Linked DNA regions of Homo sapiens. The protein of the gene in region 2 interacts with the protein of the main gene of each other region in a biochemical or structural test. Each region holds a gene or a part of one and is shown on either strand. Other genes may lie near its edges. The genes, in order: PTPN12, PXN, ASAP1 and TLN1.

Region 1 (7,032 bases), on a different chromosome or scaffold from region 2:
GGAGACGCAAGAAAATACAGCTTCTGGGTCCTCCTGAAAGAGGAGTTCCAGTCCAATACTTGATACATCTACCAAGAGTACCAGAACTCTCTCTTGCCACTAAAGAACTATCTACCTTATCCAGTAGTGGTAGTCTGAGTCATCACCATATGTCTCCTTGCCCTCTTGCTACTAACAGCGCACAGTGAAGAGATGGCTGTTGGAAGGAAGGGACACATAATCTTGGCATTCTGGTACCATTTCTTAAATTAAATGAACAAAACAAAAAGGGCAGTTCAGCCCTTTTTCTATCAGTTATCTTCCAGAAACTCTGTGCTTTTTCTCTCATGGCAGTTCTCACCCTTAAAAACTTTTATTTTCTAAGCGTGGCCCTTGCTTTGCAAATGCATGTTTCTCCCTGGAACTTTGGGCTGCCTTTCCTGTTAAAAACTTTTGTTTTAGAGGTTATCCAACCAGATATTGCGTATTTTATATAGGCTTTTGCAAATCATACACTGTATGGGGCCTTCTGTAGTTGAATCTGAGAAATCTTTCAGGAGGCCTAAGTCAAGACTGAAATTAGAATTGATAGCTAAGAATTTTTGTCAGGCAGTAACTTATGCAAAAGTTTTTTTTAGGTATCAATACAAAAGTATTCCATTATAGTCATGCACTACATAATGATGTTTTCATCAACAAGACCGCATAAACAACAGCGGTCCTGTAAGATTATGATACCATATTTTTACTGTACCTTTTCTATGTTTAGATACACAAATACTTACCATTGTGTTACAATTGTTGAGTATGGTAATATGCTATACAAGTTTGTAGCCTAGGAGCAAGAGGTTACATTGTATGGCCCAGATGTGTAGTATATACTATACCATCTAGGTTTGTGTAAATACATTCTATGACATTCACACAATGGCAAAACTGCCTAATGACATATTTTTCTTAGAACATATCCCTGCCATTAAGAAATGTGTGACTGTAATTCACTAACAAGTTCTAGGACCAAAAAACCCCCCAAAACTCTAATTCTGGTGCCAATGGCTCTATAAGATAATGATCTACAAAGGAAATAATAATCTATAAGGTAAATAAACAATCTATAAAGTAAATAATCCATATGGTAAATATTTGGCAACACATTAAAAATGAGACTACTTGTAGTTATGCTGCAACAAAGAACATTTACACACAGGAAAATCTTCGGTTAAAATCAAACCAATAACATAGTTAAGGTTGAGTAAAAAGAAACCAGAAATCACATGTATAGTGATTTTTGCTTTGAAATACAAAACCAAACAAACAGAAATGAGCTGGCACATAGTAGGGTGCTTTTAGCTATATCTTACTCTTTTTTTTTTTTTTTTTTTGAGACAGGGTCTCCCTCTGTTGCCCAGGCAGAGTGCCGGGACGCAATTATGGCTCACTGCAGCCTTGAGCTCCTAGGCTCAAGTGATCTTCCTACCTCAGCCTCCAGAGTAGCTGGGACCACAAGTGTGCACCACCATGCCCGGCTAGTTTTTTATCTTTTGTAGAGATTGGGTGTCACTATGTCACCCAGACTGGTTATGAACTCCTGGGCTCAAGTGAACTTCCTGCCTCAGCCTCCCAAAATGCTGGGATTACAGGCATGAGCCACCAACAGACTCGTCATGTAGTAGTAACTTTTAATAAGCATATCACATCATACATCTTTCTGGCCCTCACCAAATCCTATTTCCAGTAATGGTTTTTTGGTTTTTTTTAAAAAAAAAAGCAAAAGAACAAAACAACAACAAAAAAACAATAAAACTTCCTAGGTACAATACCACATGCTTGATATACTAAAAACTCAAAATGAAAATTTCTTATCTACATATTTTCTTATATAGTTACAGCTGGGCAGTTATATTTCAAATTCTGAAGCTGAGGAACAAAAGACATTAGCAATTTAAAATTATGGTAAACTGGTAAAGTAATATTATACTATTCATTATCTTCTAAAGATCCTTCAAATAAAACAAAGATAAATCAAGAAAAGATAATTCTGTAATTTAAGCAAATAGTTTAAGACTGTCACCTGGCTGGGCGTGGTGGCTCACGCCTGTAATCCCAGCCCTTTGGGAGGCCGAGGTGGGCGGATCACGAGGTCAGGAGATCCAGACCATCCTGGCTAACACAGTGAAACCCTGTCTCTACTAAAAATACAAAAAATTAGCCAGGCATGGTGGCGCATGCCTGTATTCCCAACTACTAGGGAGGATGAGGCAGGAGAATTCCTTGAACCCAGGAGGCGGAGGTTGCAGTGAGCCAAGATTGCGCCACTGCACTTCAGCCTGGGCAACAAGAGCAAAACTCTGTCTCAAAAAGACTGTCATCTAGTCTACCAAATACACTCTCTCAAGTTAAAAAATACAGTATGTGTGAGAGAAAATACAAGCACTACAGTATGGGTGGTATATAATGGGTCAGAAATAGAAAATAATCTTTCAAGGCCAGGTGTGGTAGCTCACGTCTGTAATCCCAGCACTTTGGGAGGCCTAGGTGGGCAGATCACTTGAGGCCAGGAATTTGAGACCAGCCTGGCAAACATATCGAAACCCTGTCTCTACTAAAAACATAAAAATTAGCTGGGTGTGGTAGTGGGTGCCTGTAATCCCAGCTACTTGGGAGGCTGAGCCGAGATCTTGCCACTGCACTCTAGCCTGGGTGACAGTGCAAGACTCAAAAAAAAAATCTTTTGAGTGCAAGTCTCAAAAAAAAAAAAAAATCTTTCAAGGTCACAGTACTTATTTTGCCTGCACGTTATAAATACCAGTCTGTATGTGTCACTACCAAAGTTCACTGATAGGTAAGTGACCACTGATAATCAATATATCAATAAACAGCTTTCAAATTTATATGTTTACTCTCAACCTTAGGGTCTGTTTAAGATGGTAGCCATCATTACTTTCAGCAGATCAAAGAGGAGTTTCAAGAAGCAATAATACACTTTGGGAACTGAGTGCATGCATTATCTTGAAATGCTAAGAGTGCTAAAAAAATAATAATTCTTTAAATAATAGCTTTGATGAGTAGGTATGCATATAGCCCACTCACTACTGAATTGAGCAGTTTGCAGTATTGTTCCTGGGTTAAACTCAGGGTTGGAAGCAGCCATATTTGGAAGCATTTGTGAAGACAGTAAAAACAAACAAACAAAAAAATGTAATCTGTAGTTAAAGGAACAGTAAAAAATGACTAAACATTTAGGAAAAACGAGTAACATTATATGGCCAATCAAGACATTCTACAGTATTTTTGCCACTGTTATTTTAAGTGATTCTTCCCTAAATTATTTCTAATTATTCAGTCAGATAAATTTTTGACCGATACAAAAACACTAAGATCTATAATACAGAAGAAAAAGAAAATAAGTTATCCAGTTATAACTACTAAAATAATTTAGAAACACAAAACCCAGTAATATAATGTGACCAAATTGTTAACAATACATTAAAAGCTTATATTAAAAAATTAGTATCTAAGACAGATTTTGCTGTAGGTTCTATGGTAGAGTGTGGAATAAAACATAATAAATCAATACAGCTAAAGTGCTTAAAACAGTGACTAGCACATAGGAAAGACATTTAAGTATTTGACACTATATTATTACCTTTTTCAGCACCTGAATGTGTTGTTCCTGCTATATTATGTCTAGCAATGGACATTGGCAATACTTTCCTAGTAGAAATGCTTTCAGTACTAGTGGCAGCAGAAACTGTGGCACTTGCTGTTGAAATATTAGTTTTATTCTGGGTCACAGCACCATCAGAGTTTCTTTCATCTGAGTCTGAGTCATCAGAGTGAAGTGGATTAGTAAAACTGAGGGGTGTTCTGAAGAGTGGTGAAGTGTTATCATGATCCACAAGATCAGGTGTTTCAACTTGTGTTGTAGGACTTGGTGTTAAACTCACAGTTTTCCTAGTTTGATAGTTGATATCTGAGGAATTGCCTTCAGATAAATCAGGTATGGGTATGGCATTTTCAGGTCCATGAAATGACCACGTTACATGTCCTTTCTCATCAAGAGGCAAGCGGTCTGGCCTTGGAGGTGTGTCTGAATTCTGGGATTCTTCTGGTGGAGTAACTGAAACTTTGTTTGATTGTGTTACACTGCAGTCCACACAAGAATTCTGGGAAGTATCACCGACATTTAGATCTGAACTTAATTCCTGTGGCTTAGAGATTTTATCAGCTATACAAGGTGAAGCAGATTTAATTTTAATTGCATGTCCCCTATTCAAAAGTGTGTTCCCATCAAAACTTTTTGGTCCCTCTTGGAGAGGGACCTTCTTAATCTCAAAACTTAAATTTCGTTCCAATTTTTTATCTATCTGTTCAATTGTTGATTCATTTTTCCCTGGAAGTTCTGTTGATTTACTATAGTTTCTGTTGAGGTCTGCTGAATGTTGTTCTGATGAAACCATATGCAACACTGGCTTTGGATGGTATCTATCATTGTCCTGCCACACAGTAGTGACTGTTGGAAAAGCTGAAGGGGGAGAAGGTGTCAAGATGGGTGGCACTGGATGAGGTTCCGGTGGCTGCAGTATTTCTTCTTTAGCATCCCCTTCAACAAGGCAACTGAAAAACAAACATTTAAAAAGGGCATTTTAAGACTGTTAAACAAGTTGATACCTGAGAATTATGTAGCTAAGAGTAGCATATTAAGAGCCATTACAATCTGGTTGCGAATAAAAACTGCAGTTTTTCAGACTAAGAAAATTTAATGTTCATCAAGGTAATACACATATACTGTTTAAAAAGTCAAATACAAGACTTTGAATGAAAAACATAGTCTCTGCCCCGCAGCCCTCCTGTTAGCCAGAGGCATCAACTTTCAACATTTTTTTATAGCTGCTTCTAAAATTTACACCTCTGTATTTCAGACTATTTCAAAAGTTATTTCTTGATCTTTGTTTCACACATTTTCTACTGACTTCCTACTGTGGAAGTGTCCTTCTCTATCTTTCCAATACTGTTATATTGTAATTTTTCATTACCTCAGTCGTATGACTGCAGATAGTATTCCCATCTATGACACCATGATTTCGTATCTTTTCTTCTATAGTGTCTTGTTTTCCCCTAATGACTGCCTTGGATTTCTGATGGCTTAGCTCTCTATGCATCATCAGTTACTCAGCTTTTCTTCTAACTTTCTTGCAGATTGGTATACCTCCTCTCAATAATGACAAGCACACATAGTAAGTATCAATACCACAGACATCCTTGTTAGTAACTTTTGGCCTCCTGCTCCAGTGTGGACTACTGGTTCCCTAGTCCATCACAGAGCTAATGTTCTCTCTGGTTTCAGATTCTCCTGTTTCCCAGGTCTCATTTTCCTCTTTCTGGGTATACTCCTTTGTTCGGGTGGGTTATACCCTCTAGTTGCCTTTATTTTTTTCCTTAAAGAAATAGGGGCCAGGCATGGTGGCTCACGCCTGTAATCCCAGCACTTTGGGAGGCCAAGGTGGGTGGATCAATTGAGCTCAGGAGTTTGAGACCAGCCTGAGCAACACAGTAAAACCCCATCTCTACTAATAATACAAAAATTTGCCAGGTGTGGTGGCACACACCTGCAGTCCCAGATACTTGGGAGGCTGAGGCAGGAGAATTGCTTGAGCCCAGGAGGTGGAGATGGCAGTGAGTTGAGATCACGCCACTGCACTCCAGTCTGGGCGACAGAGCAAGACTGTCTCCAAAAAAAAAAAAAAAAAAAAAAAGAGAGAGAGAGCGAGAGAGAGAGCGCGAGTGAGAGTGAGAGTGAGAGAGAGAGAGAGAGAGAGAGAGAGAGAGAGAGAGAGAGAGAGAGAGAGCGAGCAGCCTGGGCAATATGGCAAAACCCTGTGTCTTTAACAAATACAAAAAAATTAACTGGATGTGGCAATGCATGCTTGTAGTCCCAGCTACTAGGAAGGCTGAGGTAGGAGGATCACCTGAGCCTGGGGAGGTCAAGGCTGCAGGGAGCTCTGATCATGCCACTGCACTCCAGCCTGGGTGAAAGAATGAGATCCTGTCTCAAAAAAAAAAAAAAACCAAAGAAGAAGATAGGGTTTACTATGTTGCCCAGGCTTTGTTGCTTTTTAAGAACTTTATATGAAGCAAACTTCTTGAGGGCTTGTATATTTAAGTTTTTGTGTTCTGTTTTTCTTTTGAGATAGAGTCTTGTTCTGTCACCCAGGCTGGAGTGCAGTGGCACCATCTTGGCTCATTGGAACCTCTACCTCCTGGGTTCCAGCAATTCTTGTGCTTCAACCTCCTGAGTAGCTGGGACTACAGGCACATGCCACCACACCTGGCTAATTTTTGTATTTTTAGTAGAGATGGGGTTTTGCCATGTTGGCCAGGCTGGTCTCCAACTCCTGGCCTCAAGTGATTTGCCTGCCTCGGCCCCCGCAAAGTGCTGGGATTACAGGGGTGAGCCACTGGACCCCACCTCAGAGTTTTTGCTTTTTTTTCTCCCCCCAGGTGATCAACCTTTTTTTATCCAACCAGATAACTGGCAGTAATCACATGGTACACCAGGTTTCCCCTTAAAAGAGACTCTGTGGGCCAGGCATGGTGGCTCACGCCTGTAATCCTAGCACTTTGGGAGGCCAAGGCAGGCGGATCACAAGATCAGGAGTTTGAGACCAGCCTAACCAACATGGCAAAACCCCGTCTCTACTAAAAACACAAAACCCTAGTCAGGCATGGTAGCGTGCGCCTGTAATCCCAGCTACTCAGGAAGCTGAGTCAGGAGAATCACTTGAATTCGGGAGGCAGAGGTTGCAGTGAGCTGAGATCACGCCACTGCACTCCAGCCTAGGTGACAGAGCAAGACTCTGTCTCAAAATAAATAAAATAAATAAATAAAGACTCTGTGAAGTTCAGATTCTCTAGACACATTCCCACATTCCTAGGACATGAGAAGATAAATGAATATCTCCAGAATACTGATCATATTAAAATGACAGCAATACTCTCATAAGATATTCCTATATCTGTTCAAGTTTTACAAGTAGATTCTTTTTTTTTTTT
Region 2 (7,775 bases):
GGAAGAGCAAGCAATCGGGTTAGAAAACACAGTCAGAGTGCATCTCAGTGTTGTGGGAACTCTGTCCAGGAAACTCCGGCCAGAACTTGAACAGAGCGAACTCTGGGCCAAACCAGCATCTAAACAGTAATAAGAAAAGCCACCAAGCAGCCACCCCAAAGAACAAAGTGGAGAGAACACACAGGGAAGGGCAGAACACGCTGTGTTGATATTTTTCTGCTCAGAGAGCTATAAATTTGTAACTTATTAAGCAGCACATGGTGAGTCTGTCATTGGCAACTATGGGAAGGAGAAGAGTTCCCCATTTTTTATTAGACCAAAAAACAAAGTCACAGAGGAGGTGATGCACCCTCTGGCCTTGCTACCGGACACACCATAAACTCTCCCCTGTGTTAGGGACCAGGAGGCACACGGCTGAGAGCACGCTCAGGAGAAAAATAAAAACAAGAGGTCTGGGCTTTGTGTCCACCCTAAGGAAAACAGCTGAGCCACCCTAAGGAAAACAGCTGATGGCAGTGTGCTGAGCCGCCATCCAGACAGCTGACGGGGCCCCAGTGCAAAGGCAAATTCCTCTCCCCTCCTGCACACCCCATTCCTCCCACCCCAGGCTCCGGTCAGTCAGGCGTGGCTTGCCCCTTGGGAGCTCAGGCCAAGGAAGTCGGGCAGCCCGGATGTAAGCAACTGGGAGTCTATGGTAGAAAGCAGTAGAAGTTACAGGTGATCGCCATCACCCAGTGGCAACCCCTCCTTCAAGTGCCCTTGCCTCCTCCCCAGGAAAAAAAGTCTTCTCGGTATACAAGAGCCACAGATCTGGGAGCTAGGAATTGGGCTTCCAGTTATGGTTTTGTCATTTCATGGCTGTGCAGCCTTGGGCAAGAGAATCAGCCTCTCTTCGTCTCGGCTTTCTCAATCTGTAAAAAGGCAGGTGGTCATGACAGCATTGGCTTTAAGGTGGAATCTGATAAAAGGGTTGTTGTGAGGATATCACAAATCGAGGTAGAGGGAAGTACTCCACAAACAGCAATTTAAATCCCTACAATCCCCTCTCCCGTATACAGTACTCTCTTTCCTTTCAGAACTCAGTTTCCTGGCCCTAAATGGAAGACTGTCAGAAGACAGGAATTCCAGATTTCGATGGCGAGCTCTACAAAGACTTTCTCAGTCCTTGAAACAGCACGGGGACTGCCGAGAAGCAACAGAACTGCACCAGCACTTTAGAAACTGTAACTTTGCTCCCAGTTCCCACTGGGAAAGCACTCAGACTCTTAGATCCTGGTTCAAAGAACATCCCCCAGCCTCCTTCCAGCTGAGCTATTTTTATGTGAAAAAAAAAAATACCTGCCTGGAAGCCATGCCAACCTTGAGCACACTGGAAAAATGGGTGCCAAGCCTGACCCAAAGGCAGAACCACGCTTGGCAGCCATCTCACTCTGCAAAACAGGCAGGACCCTACACCAACCCCAGCTCCAGGATCTCAGGGGCACCCTGATCCCAAAAGGAAGCTGGAGGGAAGCAGTCAAGTCCAGCACCTACAAATAGCCAGTCTTAACTTAGTGCCCGGCGCTGCTTGGTAGAGGTCCATCAGTCCTGTCTGCTGAATCTACTCCTCAGAGCCTGGGACAGAGGAAGCATCAGTGGTCACACAAGCCACCCACAGTCCAGAGAGGAAAGACAAGGCTCCTGCAGAGAAGAAACGTTGCCCCCCTCCTCACCTCCCAAGCTCAGGGCCCTCCAGCTACAGGCGTGAAGGGGAGGGAGAGACAGCGAATCCTCCCACTCCTGCGTTCACGCCACCCAAGGCATTCCTAGAACCCTGGCACCAACCCCCTTGGGTTTAGAGTCGGCTTCCAGGAGATACTTTCTTTCCCCTAACACCAGATCAAGACTGGACTGAAAAGAGTAGCCTTGGGGCTCCAATAACAGGAAAACAGTAAAACTCTGTTCTGGGCATCCTGTCCTCTTTCACCTGCGTGGCTTCCAGCAGGGCCTGACGCAGAGAGGGTGGAGGGGACTCTGCTAGCCAGGACACGTTCAGGGATGGTCATACCTTGGGGCCCACCTTCCACCTCATTCCCCTGGCATTTCACCAGAATCTAGGGGTGGGGAGAGAATCAGGACTCCCAAATTACCGTTCTAGACTTAGATACCATGGTAGACGGACTGGTCTGTGAATTGAGGGGCTGGTCCACAGAGCGGGGAGGTCAGTGAGAGAAAATGAGTGATGGGTCCTTGAAACGGGGTGACCAGATTTGAAGTGGGGGGTCAGAAGAGCAGGCAGACTGGGAAACTTGTCTTTGAAATGGGGGTGTGGTCATCACACGCTCATCTCTAGCTTTTGCATCTGACTTGTGAAATGAAAGGGGTGGGCTCCGAGGGGTTATCCCTGAAGGGGGGTGCTAGTCTGTGAAGTGGGGGGCGGCCCTGGAGGGACGGGGAGCAGGTCGAGGAAATGAGGGAGCAGCCCATGAGATCGGGCAGCTGCTCCCCGAGTTGGGCGGTCGATCTGTGAGGTGGGGGTGGGGAGAGGTCTGCGAGGTGAGGGTCCCGTAGCTGACGAGGTGGTCTGCCGCAGGAAGTCTCGTCCCTGCAGCGGACGGGGTGGGTCCCTGAGGGGCGGGCTGGTCCCTGGGGCCCTTCTGGGAGATGGTGATGGGTCCCCGAGGTCGGGGGTCCAGAGGTGAAGCCGTCCCAGACGGGGGGTCGCTGCTGTGCGGTCGGTGCCGGGGCCGGCCTGGCCCGAGACTAAGGCCCGGTTAGGGATCCCAGCCCCGCGGAGCCCCGGCCGGCAGGGACAGGAGCTGAGGCCGGGGCCGCCGAGGGTGGGATCCCGCGGCCCCTGCCGCTCGCTGGCGCCCTCCTGGCCCCAAGCTGCGCGCCTCTCGCCTCCTCCTCCCTCGGCCTCCCGCTCACTCACCGAGGTCGTCCATGGCCGGACCACGGGCGCCGGCTCAGGGTCGCGCTAGCTGCCCGTCCCGGGGCCGCTCGTCTATGCCCCGCAACTTTTCCGCCGCGAGCCTCGGCCCGGAACGGAACGCGCCGCCGCCGCGCGCGCCCGCGCCCGCGCCCGCCGCGCGCCCCGCCCCCGGCCGCCCCCTGTGCACGCGCGCCCCGCCCCCGGACACCCCCGCGAGCTTGCTGGCCCCGCCCCCTGCGCACGCTGGTCCCGCCCCCGCCAAGAGCCCGGGCAGTGGGCGTCGCTGGGCGGGGCGGTGGCGCCCCCTCGCGGCTAAGCGGGCAGGTGGGCGGCTCCCAGGCCTCCAGCCACTCCCATCCATCTTTCTGTCCCTCTCAAAGTCACTTGCCTGACCCTGCGGATGACAAATCCGTCCACAGTCAGCCATGTGTCTGTGCATTCGTCAGCCACTGGGTCATCACATGCCTGTCCACTGGACAGTCAGTTTTGCCCACCTGTCCGTCTGTCACCTGTAGGTCACCACCCAGGAGGACCATAAATCAGTACCAGGCAAGGCCCGGAGCCCGTGGCTGACCTTTCCTGGGGTCGTCCTCTGGATCAATGGCAGTGCAGCTCGCAGTTCACCCTTTCTGGCCCAAACCCAATACCTGTGTGGTTCCATCTCTCTTAATATTACTTCCACACAGCCACCCTCCCTAGACACTTTTCCAAAACTGCATGGGGCAGAGGGGTCCCCAGATTAGACATTAAAGGGAAAACTACAGGAAAGTCACACCCAGTGCTCCCACACACTCGGAAATTGGGTAATAATAACAACTACCATTTATTGAGTGTCTGAATAGACAGACACTATATAGCTATTCTCTAAATTAATCCTCCTAGAGGTACTTCCCTACCCGTTGGGATGGGTGATGGCAGTTTGTGGATTTTATATAAAACTGCTCTGCAAGTACAGCTTCGAGTTCCCCTTGTCCCTCAAGAATCCAGGCCTTCTGGGTCAGATCAGGTCCTCCAGAAAGCAGATGAGATGCTGAGATAAAGCTAGGGGTAATGCCCGTGACAGAGAAGGGGAAATAAGCAGGGTTGGGCAAGGAGACTCAGATCTGACAAACAGGTCAACCCATCAGGGAATTCCAGGACAAAAAAAATGAGAAGTCTCCTTGGGCAGAAGTATCCGGGTTCCAATGCTCCCACCATGTTCAGTCATTTTATAAAGGCAGATCCAAGCAGCTTCTGTGGCTGCCACATTCTCCTATAATAAATTCAAGACCAAAGACTGTTCCTCAAACACTCTATTGCGTGGTTTTCCAGCATCTTGCACATACCTCTATTTTGTTTTAGTTTTTGTGTTTTTGTTTTTGTTTGAGATGGAGTCCCAATCTGTCGCCCAGGTTGGAGTGCAGTGGTGCAATCTCAGCTCACTGCAACCTCCGCCTCCCAGGTTCAAGTGATTCTCCTGCCTCCTGCTGGGATTACAGGCGCATACCACCATGCCTGGCTAATTTTTGTATTTTTAGTAGAGATGGGGTTTCACCATGTTGGCCAGGCTGGTCTTGAACTCCTGATCTCAGGTGATCTCCTGCCTCCTGGTGGGATTACAGGCGTGTACTACCATGCCTGGCTAATTTTTGTATTTTTAGTAGAGACAGGGTTTCACCATGTTGGCCAGGCTGGTCTTGAACTCCTGACTTCAGGTGATCCGCCCCCCTCAGCCTCCCAAAGTGCTGGGATTACAGGTGTGAGCCACCACGCCCAGCCTGTTTTTGTGTTTTTAAGACACAGTCTTGCTTTGTTGCGTAGGCTGGGATGATGAATAAGACTAACATGATGTCTACCTTCTTGAATCTAAAGGTGCACGCAAAAGAGCAAAGTGGTTAGCATGAAGGATGAGTAGCCTCGCCCCACTCCCAGCTGTGTGGAACAGCATGTGCAAAGGTCTGTAGACAAGACATTTAATACTGACCACAAGCCTAGGAGATGAGCATTGTTAGCCCCTTTTACAGCTGGAAGAGTTGAGAGTCAGAGGTTGAATTACTCCAGGTCATACAGCTAATAAGTAAGGAAACTGAGATTTGAACCTGGGGAGGCTTATGCCAAGGCCTGGTTATGAAACGGCTAAGTGAAACTGCTAACAACTTAGACCAACCCCAGGGCATACGCTTGTCCACTTCTCCAAAGGTCTAAAACCTTTCTTTTTCAAAGCTGTGTGGTCTGGAAATGCGAGGCACCCATTGAATGGGCAAGTTTCCCATTGCTATGCAGAGTTCTAAAGAGAACTGAAGCTTCAGAGTTGAGTGCTGGTGCACTCGAACACTCAGGTCCCTGCCAGGGATTTCCTCATGTAAATCATTCCTAAACCCCCATTTCCTCCCTGGCTTCCTTCTTCCCTTGGACTCTCACCCCACAGCAATTAAACTTGGTGTCTAGTTCAGGCTGCTACAACAAAATACTGTAGACCGAGTGACTTATAAACAACAGAAATTATTTTTTCACAGTTTTGGAGGCTGAAAGTTCAAGATCAGGGTGCCAGCACAGTCAGGTTCTGGTGAGGGCCCTCTTCTGGGTTGCAGACTGTTGACTTTTTGTACCCTCACACGGCTCAAAGAGGGTCCCTTTAATAAAGGCACTAACTAATCTCTTTCATGAGGGCCCTGCCCTCATGACCTAATCACCTGTCAGGCCTCACCTCCTAACACTATCGAATTGAGATTAGATTTCAACATATGAATTTTCAAGGATATGAACATTCAGTCCCTTGCATTTGATAAAATCAATCAGGTTTTTTCATTCTTCCTAAAGATTAAACGACATTGACAGAGCAGATGGACAACCCTGCTGACTTCTTGCTAGTGGTTCATCTTGGGCAATTTACTCTGTGCCTCAGTTTCTTCCCCTATAGAAAGGTTAATAGTAGCTACCTCTCAGAGTCCTCATAGGACTAAATAAGAAACGACACACCTAGTACTTAGAATGGTCCTTGTCACCACAAAATAACACTCTTCACTCAGCAATAGAAACAGAACTCGACCAGGCTCACACCTGTAATCCCAGCACTTTGGAAGGCCAAGGCGGGCGGATCACTTGAGGTCAGGAGTTCGAGACCAGCCTGGCCGACATGGCGAAACACCATCTCTACTAAAAATATATAAATTAGCTGGGCATAGTGGTGTGCACCGGTAATTCCAGCTGCTCAGGAGGCTGAGGCAGGAGAATCACCTGAACCCAGGAGACGGAGGTTGCAGTGAGTCGAGACTGTGCCACTGCACTCCTGCCTGCGCGACAGAGTGAGACTCTGTCAAAAAAAAAAACAAAGAAAGAAAGAAGGAAGGAAGGAAGAAAGGAAGGAAGGAAGGATGGAAGGAAGGAAGGAAGGAAAGAAAGAGAGAGAAAAGAAACAGAATGCAAGCCGGATATGCAATCAAAACTTTTCTTTTTTTTCTTTCTTTTTTTTGAGACAGAGTCTCACTCTGTCGCCCAGGGTGGAGTGCAGCGGCATGATCTCAGCTCACTGCAACCTCTGCCTCCCGGGTTCAAGTGATTCTCCTGCCTCAGCCTCCTGAGTAGCTAGGATTACAGGCACCCGCTATCACACCCGACTAATTTTTGTTTTTGTTTTTTTTTTTTTTTTTGAGACGGAGTCTTGCTCTGTCGCCCAGGCTGGAGTGCGGTGGCGCGATCTCGGCTCACTGCACGCTCTGCCTCCCAGGTTCATGCCATTCTCCTGCCTCAGCCTCCCAAGTAGCTGGGACTACAGGCGCCCGCCACCACGCCCAGCTAATTTTTTCTATTTTTAGTAGAGACGGGGTTTCACCGTGTTAGCTAGGATGGTCTCGATCTCCTGACCTCGTGATCCGCCCATCTCGGCCTCTCAAAGTGCTGGGATTACAGGCGTGAGCCACCGCGCCTGGCCAATTTTTGCATTTCTTTAAGTAGAGATGGGGTTTCACCATGTGGGCCAGGCTGGTCTTGAACTCCTGACCTCAGGTGATCCCACCTGCCTCACCTCCCAAAGTGCTGGGATTGCATGTGTGAGCCGCCGCGCCCGGCCCAATCAAAACTTTTTTAGCCAAGTGCAATGGCATATGCCTGTAGTCCCACCTACATGGGATACTGAGGCAGGAGGATTGCTTGAGTTTAGGAGTTTGAGTCCAAACTGGGAAACTAGCAAGACCTCCTCTCTAAAAAATATCTTTAAAAAAATAAAAGAAACAGGCCAGGCACGGTGGCTCATGCCTGTAATCCCAGCACTTTGGGAGGCCAAGATGGGTGGATTACCTCAGGTCAAGAGTTTGAGACCAGCCTGACCAACATGGTGAAACCCCATCTCTACTAAATATACAAAATTAGCTAGGTGTGGTGGCACATGCCTGTAATCCCAGCTACTTGGGAGGCTGAGTCAGGAGAATCGCTTGAACCCGGGAGGCGGAAGTTGCAGTGGGCCAAGATCCAGCCTGGCTTACAAGAGCAGAACTCCATCTCAAAAAATAAAAAATAAAAAAATATATGGCCGGGCACGGCGGCTCATGCCTGTAATCCCAGCACTTTAGGAGGCCGAGGTGAGCAAACAACCTGAGGTCAGGAGTTCAAGACCAGCCTGGCTAACAGCCTGGTCTACTAAAAACACAAAAATTAGCCGGGCATGGTGGTGGGCACCTATAATCTCAGCTACTCCAGAGGCTGAGGCAGGAGAATCGCTTGAACCTGGGAGGTGGAGTTTGCAGTGAGCCAAGATCACACCACTGCACTCCAGCCTGGGGGACAGAGTGAGACTCCATCTCAAAATAAATAAATAAAATAGATAAAATTAATGTTAATAATATATTTTATTTAATTCAATATATCCTCAGTGTTGGCTGGGCAT
Region 3 (4,103 bases), on a different chromosome or scaffold from region 2:
TAGTGATTTACAAGCCACATGTCTCCTGTGTGTGAATGAATGCCTCTGAGCCTCATTTGTCAGCTCTGTAAAGCTGAGGGGCTCACGCTTCTCCTGGGCTTGCTAAGGATTCAGGGGTTAATGCAGGCAGAGTGCCTGGGCCAGGTCTGCTCCACTGCGTGGCAGCACTAGTTGTGACAGCTACGTGACAGAAGTGCTGTCCACACGACAACATGTAAGCCTCGTGCCCCTCCACCCTCTTCTTGCCCTGTTCACATCAACGGGCGCACAAGTGGACGTGGTGGAGGTGGAATGCGGAAGGTGGAGGACAGAAAGGGGCCGAAGGCCCACAGTTTGTAAGCCGGGGCAAGTGCCACATATTTTTATGTATCCAGAGTGATCTCTGACAAGGGTTGGAGTGACCTGTGTCATCTATATACCCGAAAGCACAGCCAGAGGAAGCCTTGATTCTCTCCTGTCAGCAGGGTAGTGAACAACTCACAAAATGGCCTGATTTCAGAAGTTTGGGATCAACTGAGAATATGTTTATTTAAAAGCAATTTTAAATATTAAAAAAAGTAGAAATTAACACATACAGTACTGAAAAACTGTCACATTAAACACATGTGAAATGACAAGTGTACTGATGTTTGATGGTAACATCCAGATGAGAATTCGGCATTTAACTAGTGGCACTACAGGATTCCTATACAACATGTTGAAGTTCTAGGCAATAAAAAAATAAATAGCAATTGCTGTTCAACAGTAAAATAAGACACACACTATTTGCAGAACATAACTTTCCCCTCTGGGGGAAAAAGAACTAATTTGCTATTTTTTTTTCATAAGGTTCCATATCTTCAAAATACTATATAATGTACAAAATTGCAGATAGTGGCTTACTGAGTTTAAGATCAAGATCAGACTTAAACTCAACAAGATCACCAAAGGTATTTCTACTGAGTTTTCCTATGTCCCACAGTAAGCTGGGTTAGAGAGAACTCAAATTCCTGATGGAAAACAAAACCGAACAAAAAAACTAGAAAAAAAAGGTGTTAAAAATGCTGTGTAAGTTGCTGCAAAAGGGGAAAAAGAATAGACACTAACTCCATGTAATTTTAGACATGCAGCTTTTGTGTTTTTTTTTTGTTTTTGTTTTTTTTTTTTTTTTGAAAAAAACCAGTTTATTTTGAGATCAGTGAAAAGAGTCTAGGCCACAGAAAAGAACAGCTCTTTAATGCAAGTTAAAATGTGTAAATGAATGACCGGGACACTGAGCAACCTCAGATGCAGACTTCCATCCGGACACTGGTGTGGCTTCAGTACCGAGGCTGCTAAAGCTGCCAGTCACAACCCAGCATGTCAACTGGTTCCTCATGCTCTGTTTGGTGTGGAAATTCACATGTGCCCTGACACTGAGGAAGCAATTGCTTAAAATCACTTTCCAATAACAGCTGATAAAATATTTTGCAGGTTTGTCATGCAAGGTTTATTTATTAGGTGGCTATTCAAAGTTTGTATAGCAACCACTTAAGCAGAACTAAATTAATATTCACTGAGCACTGTAACGATGGAAGAGGGCTTTTCCTAAGGGTTGGGTTGGGAGTTGTGCTTCTGTGAAATTAACATCTCTCACTCATTGCCAAGATTCTCTGCTTAAAAATATTAGTTTTCTGTGCTGTTGCCAAAATAGCAATTTAAGCAAATGTAGTGCCAGAATGACACATGAGCCTCGGACTCAGGGAACAGTTCCACTGACTGTGGAGTACAACTATTGCATTCTTTTCCAAAATTCAGACTGATGTAAAAGACTGAAATACAATGTTCTTAAGGATCTGATAAACATGGCTGGGATGAAAAGAAAACTGAGAGGGAAGAGTGCTTTTCACAGTGCAATTCATAGCAGCGTTCAAAAACTTGGTTATGAATTGACTTGAAGGTGGACAGAGCTTAAGACTGGAAAAATTATCTATAATTGGGGTTTAACAAAGAGCATGGGAAAAGAAACACTTGGTTTCAGCACCTGGATTCTACATACAGTAGGGAAACTGTGTGAAGGGTTGACTTTTAAATTCATCTTGAATAATCTTTTAAAAGTTTAAATTTGTCCAAGAACAAAACTAAGAAAATAATAAAAAATGGATGCAATGGATGCTTCAACACATCTGAGAGATGTGCATTCATAACACAATATGTCAATCCATACTCTTGAGAAAGCCAGTGATTAGAAACAAATATTGTTGCAACCTTATAATTTCTGCTTTAATGGCAATCAAGTTTAAAAAATGTACAATTCCACTTATCCATACTATTCCTTTATAAAAGGCAGATTTCAGGTAAGCTTCTAAATGCATGCGTAATGTAGAGGCTAATATTTTCTGGCAGTCCTTGGTTCCTGAAATTTGAACTTCATATGTGTTTTAAACTTTTGTCAAAATAGTCATGAAAGATATGTTATTTTTGCATAATGAGGTAATATATCAGGGGCGGGCACTCATAAGACAGTATAAATCCACTTGTCTAAACTTGCATGAGGCTGTGTGCATTGTAAAATGCCATAAAGAGTTTTGGGTCAGTGAATATTTTGCTGAAGGAATAACACTTACATTTAACTGAGCACTTTTCTGTAATAAATACCAAAGTAGGTTTTTGTAGCTGTAAACTGTGTACACAGATAACTACAGGCTGGTCTGTCATGGAGCTAAAAGTTTCACCTGGAAAACAGAACCCACCTCTTTGCTAATGTTGCATTTTCAGTAACACAATTGAGAATACTGCATTGTTAGGAACAGAGTCAATTCTATGCCTTTCAACGGTTGCTGGAGACCACTTCTATTTGCAAAGCCAGCAGTTCCTATACTCCTATTTTTGTTTGTTTGCTTGTAGAACAGCATAGAGAGATGTAAGTGCTAGATGCCAAGGATGGCTTTGGCAAACCAGTAAGGCGCGCCGGGTCCGAGGCTACCCTCATACTGGTGAAGGCAGAAAACCACAGGATATTTACAACACACATTATATCCCCCTCCTGAGGTGGCCCTTCCATGAGTTTCTTACTCTGTAACAGCAGCTATATACACACTGTGCCCAGGGTTACATGAAGGCAGCAGTCTTGCATGAAGGATGTGGACAATCTTAAGGTTCTGCGTTTTGCTAGTCAGACAGGATATGAACAAAGGACACTGGAAAGACCCCCTTCCTTTCAGGCTGTCCTTCGATGTGGCCAATCTGCAGGGAGAAAAGAGAGTGGTCAGGATGGAGGCAGCAGGCAGTGGCCCCACGACAAACCCAGTGGGTAAGAGCCCAGCCTAGTCTGCCCACAGACCTGGCGGTGGAATCCCAGGCTTACCCTTCTTCCCACCCTTTAGTGAACTACAGAGAGCTTAACGGTCATAAACTACATAAGGAAAGAGCAAACGACAGAACTTCCAATATGCTCAGCATTCTACATGGATCTTGCTGTACCCACACAGCAACCCCCTGAGGTGGATATTTCTTATACAGTTTACAATCTTCATTTTACAGATGAAGGGACAGTGGCCCAGAGAGGTGACATGCTCTCCCACAGGCGTGGGGCTCTAGAGTCCTTGCTCTGAACCAGGGCGCCTGGCTGCCTTTACAGCTGGGTGACCTCACACAAACCTTGCTAAGCCTTTTCTCTGTTAAGTGGGGCTAAAGAAAATCCCTTCTCTCCAGGCTTGTGTGATACATTTAAAAAAGAAAAAAAAAAAAAAAAGCAAATGAAAAGGCTGCTATGGCACCTGGCCAATCCCAGTACTATTACCTATTCCTAGTTGGGAAGGAAGGGGTTTCTTTGCCCACAGCCCAGGTAGGATGCATACAGACCATTAAGCTGTGTCAGCTGCCTGGCAAGACCCACTGCGGGGTACCATACTCAAATCAAAGCTAATCTTGTTCTGTCTCTTCTCTTTGTGAGTAAAGTGTTGTTCTAGCCAGTAAAAAAAAAAAAAAAAGGCTGCTATGTACTATCACTTGTTTTCTGGTTACCGTGGAGGAAGAATACTGTGAAAGTTTGAGACTGATGGTGGCGAATGGCAATTTTATTGTCTGCTGCATTGGCCTGTAAGCCAGTTACCTGTAAAAATTTTCTAATTACCTCAATTAGA
Region 4 (7,247 bases), on a different chromosome or scaffold from region 2:
TTCAAATACTTCTCCAAATAATAAGTTGTGAAGCCAGGATCCGAACCCAGGTTTCTGACTGCAAAGCCCAAGCTTTCTCCACTACGCCAGCCAGCTGGAGATGTGTCAGGGGTAGTTTTCACTCCAGGCAGAGAAATAGCATAAGCAAAGATGGAGAAGCAGTAAATCGTGGAGGAGCATTCAGGGAAGTGAGCAGGCAGGCTGTTGAAGCACAGGGGTACCTGCAAGGGAGCAGTGGTGGGGAAGTCAGGGTTAGGATGGAAAGGCAGAGGAAGACTGGAGAGGGGTATGAGGAATTTTACTTATTGGAGGACAAAAGGAAGCCAAGGGAGTCTTTGAGCAGAGAAGAGACATAACCGGAACTGGATTTTAGAAAAATAACTCTGGCAGTTACCTTGGAGATTAGTTAGAAGGACACTGTATTAGTACAAATTAAAGGTAATGAAGCCGGAGTTGGAATGGCATTGAGGAAGATGTCACTCAGAACAAGTTTGGGGAGGTAGAAATGACAGGACCTAATAACTACTAAGGTAGACAGGTTAGAGTCCCACAGCTTCCTATCATCAGCAGCCACTTTAGCGGCTGGGGCAGCTTGAGTTTAGGCGACGAATTGGGAAGAGGGGAAAGGATCAGGTTGGGCAGAGAATGTGAGGATGAGGCTGTGGTTACGGGATGTGGTTAGGCTGTGGGGAAAAAGGGTATGAGTATATGATTAGTAGCCACTAGGGGCAGATGGGGTTGGGTTAGTGACTGCATCAGGCTGGGAATGGGGAAGACAGGGTGTAGAAAAAGGATGAGAAGACAGGGTGTAGAAAAAGAATGCTGGTGATGATGGTGTTTGGAAAAATACATATACATAAGATACATATATGACCAGTCACTGCATCAGGTTGGGGGAAGGGGAATGATTACATGGATGGTGGCTAAGTCAGGGAATGATGGGGTGAGGTCAGAGGCCAGGTCAGGCTATAGGAGGTTGAGAAGAGCTGGGCCTGTGGTCAGTCACTAAATCAGACTGGGGTGGGGGTGGGAAAGTGAAGGGACATTGGCAATGTCTAAGTAAAGCTGGAGCTGGGATGGGGGATGGGGTACAGCCAGTGGCTGGGTCAGGCTGAGTAGAGGATAGTGCTGTGGTCAGTGGCAGGGTCAGGCTGGGAGTGAAGTGGGGGTGTGGTCAGTGGCCTGGCTGGGCGTGGGATCAGCAAGACCCAGTTTCCTCTTTGGGTCTCGTTTCCTCTTTTCTGTTGGGGAGTGGGGGAAGGGGATCTACAAATGGTCCAAGAAATTAAAAGAGGCTTAGATCCAGGGGGTGACACACAGCAGGGGATGGGAGTAGGGTATTCAGCAGATGACCAGGTGGAATGTAGGTACATGACTGGGTGAAAATGGTAGGAGAGTAATTTAAAATGATGGGAAAGCTCAGGTTTTGATGAGGGTAAATTCAGGTAGGATGTGCGGATTAAAGGTTGGTGAGGGAGGTAGAACTAAGGATGGGAACGGATGATAAGATGAGCATGGGAGAGTTAAAGGCAAGGGAAGTATTTTGTAAGGGGATAGGCAGGATGGGTGTGAAATGCAGAGTCAGGGATGAGAGTTGGAGAGGAGGGCTTAATACCAAGAGAACAAGTGAAGTGGGAGAAGCAGGGCTAAACTTTCAGGGGATTCAGTTATTCCCTTCTCCCATGGCAACAGTGATTCCTTGGTTAGCTTCCCCCATAGTCATCAGCTCCTTCTTCCCTAGGCAGTCCCCAACTTGTGACTAGGCCTTGTACATCCTGGGTCCCTATTTCCCACCTATGTTGTCTGTAAACAACACAGTCCAGAATCTCTGTCCCCTAACTGTGGTGGCCACAGCAAGGGCCTTGGGCTTAGAGAATGGAATAAAGAAGCTGGAATCCCAGATGCCTGCAATTCTAGCTAAAGCCAGAACGCTAGCCTGAAATTAGTTTATCTCTCTGGGTAAAAAGAAGCCCCTGTAACTACATAGGAATAAAGGATTTCCCTACAAAAGAAGGGCATTTACCTACTGCCAACCTCTTAAATTTTATCTGCTCAAGGTCAACTATGCTAGCCTCAAACCACAACCCCTAAAGCTGCCCCAAATTCCTAACATTAACCCCACCTCTAATTTGTTTCCTGATTCCCAGTACCGGCTTGGACATTCATCCCTTTCCTAGCACAGACTCATATCCAATCCCTGATCCCTGAAACTGATCTAAGTTTTGCCTTTAGCACCAAATCCCCTGATGTTAACCCTAAATGTTGACCCCTAAGCCTAAAGTTCATTTATAATTTGATTCCTAACTCACGCTTTCACTGTTTATCCTTAACACCGACCATGCCAACATTCTTTAATCCCTCAAACAAGCTCTAACCTGATTCCTGTTGTTTGTTGACCCTTAACCTGACCCTGAACTCAAATTATGACGTATGATGGCCATCCCAGCAAACAAGATAATGACCGTAATCTAAACCTTACCTATCTAAAACGGACCTGACTCACACTAACTCTTAAGTTTTAACCCCAGCTTTTAACTCCTATAGCGACCCTTGATTCCTAAACGGACCCCACCTAATCCCCAACTCACCCAAAGCTTTCCTACCCACATGCCCGCTATCAGCTAACACCAAAGCCCGTCCCCGCCCTGCGCCCCGCTGCCACCCGACTCCTCACGCTCCCCAAAGCCTATCCCAGACATAGGACTGCTCCCAGGAAAGGCCTGTCTTCCCCAAGACGGCCTACTTCACGCCGAGCTCAAGCCGAGATGCGCTGGACGCTGACCTCTCCAACTAATAGGACCCGAACCGGACACGCAAGAGAGGCAGGGCCCGCCCGCCCCGGGGCCAGGCCCCGCGGCCCCACCCTAAGGCCCCCGCCCGGCCCGGTCTGGCCTACCTGCGCTGCCTGGCTCTGCGCCCCGCCCGCCGGCCCGCCGCCCCGCCGCTTCTCGGGTCGCCCTCGGGCTCCGGCCTCGCCCTCCCTTCGACACTCTCTCGGCCACTTCCGTCCTGGGAACGTCCCCCACCCGCGGGCGGCGCCCTGGGCCCGCGCTCTATGGTCGCGGGGGGCAGGCAGGAAGCTGCTCTGGCCCCGTTCTCGATGCTCGGGAGCCGCCAAAGCCCGGCAGCCCCTCCCTGGCAGGAAGCGAGGGTGCGGCGCAATCCGGAGAGGACGCCAGGACGACGCCCGAGTTCCCTTTCAGGCTAGAACTCTTCCTTTTTCTAGCTTGGGGTAGAAGGCGGAGCCGGAGCCCCGGAACCCCCGCCCTCGGGGTGCGAGGCGGCAGCAGGGCCGTCCCCTACATTTGCATAGCCCCTGGGACGTGGCGCTGCACCCAAGCCTCTTCTCAGTTGGAGGGAACTCCAAGTCCCACAGTGCCACGGGGTGGGGTGCGTCACTTTCGCTGCGTTGGAGGCTGAGGAGAATTGAGCCTGGGAGGCGGGTCCGGAGAGGGCTATGGAAAGCCGCCGGCGGGGAATCCCGGCCGTAGAGGGACAGTGGATAGGTGCCCGAGGCCTACAGCTGGCCTGGGGCTCGTGTCTGGGCTTCGGACGTTGGGGCCCGGTGGCCCACCCTTTCCGTAGTTGTCCCAAATGGAGCTGGAATTGGATGCTGGTGACCAAGACCTGCTGGCCTTCCTGCTAGAGGAAAGTGGAGATTTGGGGACGGCACCCGATGAGGCCGTGAGGGCCCCACTGGACTGGGCGCTGCCGCTTTCTGAGGTAGGTTGGGGTTCTGACTGGGGAAAGCGTGGGATGTCCATGAAGTCAGGTGATGGTGATAAGGTCAAGGCCTGTTCATTGGAACCCTGCGCAGGTACCGAGCGACTGGGAAGTAGATGATTTGCTGTGCTCCCTGCTGAGTCCCCCAGCGTCGTTGAACATTCTCAGCTCCTCCAACCCCTGCCTTGTCCACCATGACCACACCTACTCCCTCCCACGGGAAACTGTCTCTATGGATCTAGGTGAGTCTGAAATAAGTTTGCGGGGAGGACAGGGTTCATGGGCCTGGCTATTCATACTTTCCCTTTTGCAGAGAGTGAGAGCTGTAGAAAAGAGGGGACCCAGATGACTCCACAGCATATGGAGGAGCTGGCAGAGCAGGTACTTGACTTGATTTTCAGGAGATTACTCTCACATTCCCCAGGTGGGGGCAGGATTCCCCATTCCTCTCTGACATCCCCATGCAACTGCCGTCCACTTTCTTGTTACCCTAGGAGATTGCTAGGCTAGTACTGACAGATGAGGAGAAGAGTCTATTGGAGAAGGAGGGGCTTATTCTGCCTGAGACACTTCCTCTCACTAAGGTAAGACTCTCATTGGTTGAACAAAGGCTGAAAAGGGATTAAAAGTCCCAAGTAGGCAAATTCTGTTAACTTTATATCAATAACTTTAAAAAAGGATTGAGGTGAGAAACTTAGTAGATTTATTGCTAATAGGAAGTTGAGGCAGGTACACAATATGCCAGATGCAAGGGCAGATCCTCGTTTTTGTTGGGCTTATACAAATTTTGGTGTTCTGTTAAAAAAATAACTCAAAATTATCAGTGCAACATTAGTATTGGGCCTTGGAAAGGACTGTGTAAGTGAAGGGCCTTGACACTTCGTTGGCTTCATAGTAATCCACCTCTTGCTGAATGGTAGAACTGTTTAGAGAGTTCAACAGGGTTGGACTAAGCAGTACATGAATAAATGTAAAATCCTTAGTTTTCAGTTTTAAGCAATGAGTGGCAACTTCACAAGCAGAGTACTGGGGTACTATGATGAAATCAGTGCTCATTAATAGAAAGGTTACAGGAATATATATATATTTTTTGACAAGGTCTTGCTCTGTTGCCCAGGCTGGAGTGCACTGATGTGATCATGGCTCACTGCAGCCTTGACTTTCTGGGCTTAGGTGATTCTCCCACCTCAGCCTCCCGAGTAGCTGAGACTACAGGTGCACACTACCCTGCCCGGCAATTTTTTTTTTGGTATTTTTAGTAGAAATGGGGTTTTGCCTTGTTGCCAGGCTGGTCTCGAACTCCTGGGCTCAAGTGATCTACCCACCTTGGCCTCCCAAAGTGAAGAATTTTAATTTCTTCAAAGTACAAGATGAGTCAGCAGTGTGATGTGGCTACTAAGAAAGTTCATGGGATTTGGAAACTGTAGCAATAGAGTTATTGTCTCTACAAGTCACTCTCTTGCTTTCCTTGATACTGGCTAGAGCACATCTTTGACAGATACTAAGAGGATGCAGTCTATCCTGAGAAGATGAGTTAAAAATTTTGTCTTTTTTTTTTTCTTTAAGCTCTGAGGAAATGTTAAGTGCCTTAAAATAGCTAAACAGGGTTTATTCTATTTGGCCCCAGAGATACTAGGTAAGTCCAACGGATAGAAATTATAAGGAGGCAGCTGTTGGTTCAGGATAAGGAAGTTTTTATTTGCTTGTTTGAAGACAGGTTCTTGCTTTATTGCCCAGGTTGGAGAATAGTGGCGAGATCATGGCTCACTACAGCTTCAACCTCTCAGGCTCAAGTGATCCTCCTTCCTCAGTCTCCTGAGTAGCAGGGACCACAGGCATGTGCCACCACACCCGGCTAATTTTTTATTTTTAGTAGAGACAAGGTCTCACTATGTTGCTCAGGCTGGTCTCAAACTCCTGGGCTCAACCGGTCCTCCTGTCTTAGCTCCCCAAAGTGTTGGGATTACAGGCATGAGCCACGTCGCCTGAATACTGCCCGACCAGTTTTTTTTTTAATAGTTTAAAATGGTCTGGCTTGTTAGGGTTAACACCTGGTCCGTGGAGGCATTCAGAAAGAATCTGAATGCCTGTTGGTCAGGGAAGCTGTAGAAGGGATTTCTGTATTGGAAAGAGATTGATCTCAGTTGCGTTTCAACTCCTTTTTCTAGAGTTCCTCTAATGATATCCCTTTCCCTGTTTCCTTTCAGACAGAGGAACAAATTCTGAAACGTGTGCGGAGGAAGATTCGAAATAAAAGATCTGCTCAAGAGAGCCGCAGGAAAAAGAAGGTGTATGTTGGGGGTTTAGAGAGCAGGTATGAAAGGGAGAGGGACTCTGTTGTAAGTATTAGGTTTTTGAAGGGAGGATACAGGCCATATCCCCGTATCTTTGTTATTTCCCCCAGGGTCTTGAAATACACAGCCCAGAATATGGAGCTTCAGAACAAAGTACAGCTTCTGGAGGAACAGAATTTGTAAGTATCCCTCCAAACCATTCCCTTCCTATGCCCCTCATTTAATGCTTTCTCACTCTTTCCCCTGCCCTACACTTGATTTCTAACTGGGCAGCTGCCTTCACTAGGTCTCTGATTCCAAGAAGCTCCCAGTAGTGAGGAATACATTTACAAGTAACTAAGAATAAGTTAAGTACCAAGAAAAAGAAAGGGGGTAAGAAAGACGTCATGGGCTTTCATAGTAGTTAGGATTCTGGGGTTGGGTTGGGAAAGCATTCTAGGCAGAGAGAAAGCATCCTAGGCAAGAGGACTAGTCCAGCATAGTCATCTTGGGCTGGAACTCTTAACACACATGAGCTGGGACAGAAGGTAGAGAACATAGAAAATGCCTGGTGAGGATTATGTGCATAGCTGATCAGACAGTGGGGAACGACTGATGATATTCGCAAAGGAGGTTAAGTCCTGGCAGAGTTTTTTTGTTTTGTTTTGTTTTTGCTTTTTGTTGTTGTTGTTGTTTTAATGAGGAACTTCAGGCATTTTGTCCAGAGAGGAAGAAGTCGTTTGCAAAAATAGAATGAAAAGTAAGAGAGAGGATCCAGTGCAGAGATGGAGGAGGTGGCCTGAACAGGAGTTTCACTGTGTCTCAGGATGCTAGGCCAGGGGATGCTCACTATTGGCCCCTCTCTTCCTCTAGGTCCCTTCTAGATCAACTGAGGAAACTCCAGGCCATGGTGATTGAGATATCAAACAAAACCAGCAGCAGCAGCACCTGCATCTTGGTGAGGATGGTGATGAGGGGAGAAATCCTTTTCTCAGTTGGTGGGGACAGGGCAATCCAGAGCCCTTCTTCATCTCCTTTTTCCTGTGCTCTAGGTCCTACTAGTCTCCTTCTGCCTCCTCCTTGTACCTGCTATGTACTCCTCTGACACAAGGGGGAGCCTGCCAGCTGAGCATGGAGGTAAGAGGCTTAAGGATAGCTCTCAGACAGGGCAAGGGGAGAGGTCTGGGTTGGCCTCTGAAGATTCTTTGTCTCCTCAGTGTTGTCCCGCCAGCTTCGTGCCCTCCCCAGTGA

What was found.
Region 1: the proteins of PXN (region 2) and PTPN12 form a complex in vitro, tested with the Homo sapiens proteins (4 studies listed by BioGRID and IntAct, with this or other methods).
Region 3: the proteins of PXN (region 2) and ASAP1 form a complex in vitro, tested with the Homo sapiens proteins (one study listed by BioGRID).
Region 4: the proteins of PXN (region 2) and TLN1 form a complex in vitro, tested with the Homo sapiens proteins (3 studies listed by BioGRID).

What each region holds. Positions count from the first base shown.
Region 1 is NC_000007.14:77,624,269-77,631,300, reverse strand, and holds part of PTPN12 (tyrosine-protein phosphatase non-receptor type 12), read right to left. Parts: intron 4,597-7,032; coding exon 3,626-4,596; intron 1-3,625. UniProt on the Homo sapiens protein: Dephosphorylates a range of proteins, and thereby regulates cellular signaling cascades. Dephosphorylates cellular tyrosine kinases, such as ERBB2 and PTK2B/PYK2, and thereby regulates signaling via ERBB2 and PTK2B/PYK2.
Region 2 is NC_000012.12:120,262,703-120,270,477, forward strand, and holds the start of PXN (paxillin), read right to left. Parts: upstream 3,029-7,775; 5' UTR 2,928-3,028; coding exon 2,915-2,927; intron 1-2,914. UniProt on the Homo sapiens protein: Cytoskeletal protein involved in actin-membrane attachment at sites of cell adhesion to the extracellular matrix (focal adhesion). Recruits other proteins such as TRIM15 to focal adhesion.
Region 3 is NC_000008.11:130,051,602-130,055,704, forward strand, and holds the end of ASAP1 (arf-GAP with SH3 domain, ANK repeat and PH domain-containing protein 1), read right to left. Parts: intron 3,205-4,103; coding exon 3,130-3,204; 3' UTR 503-3,129; downstream 1-502. UniProt on the Homo sapiens protein: Possesses phosphatidylinositol 4,5-bisphosphate-dependent GTPase-activating protein activity for ARF1 (ADP ribosylation factor 1) and ARF5 and a lesser activity towards ARF6.
Region 4 is NC_000009.12:35,729,179-35,736,425, forward strand, and holds the start of TLN1 (talin-1), read right to left. Parts: upstream 3,018-7,247; 5' UTR 2,897-3,017; intron 1-2,896. Other genes in the region: CREB3 (cyclic AMP-responsive element-binding protein 3), read left to right, coding at 3,595-3,723, 3,818-3,965, 4,037-4,104, 4,218-4,307, 5,931-6,037, 6,128-6,196, 6,870-6,954, 7,049-7,133 and 1 more. UniProt on the Homo sapiens protein: High molecular weight cytoskeletal protein concentrated at regions of cell-matrix and cell-cell contacts. Involved in connections of major cytoskeletal structures to the plasma membrane.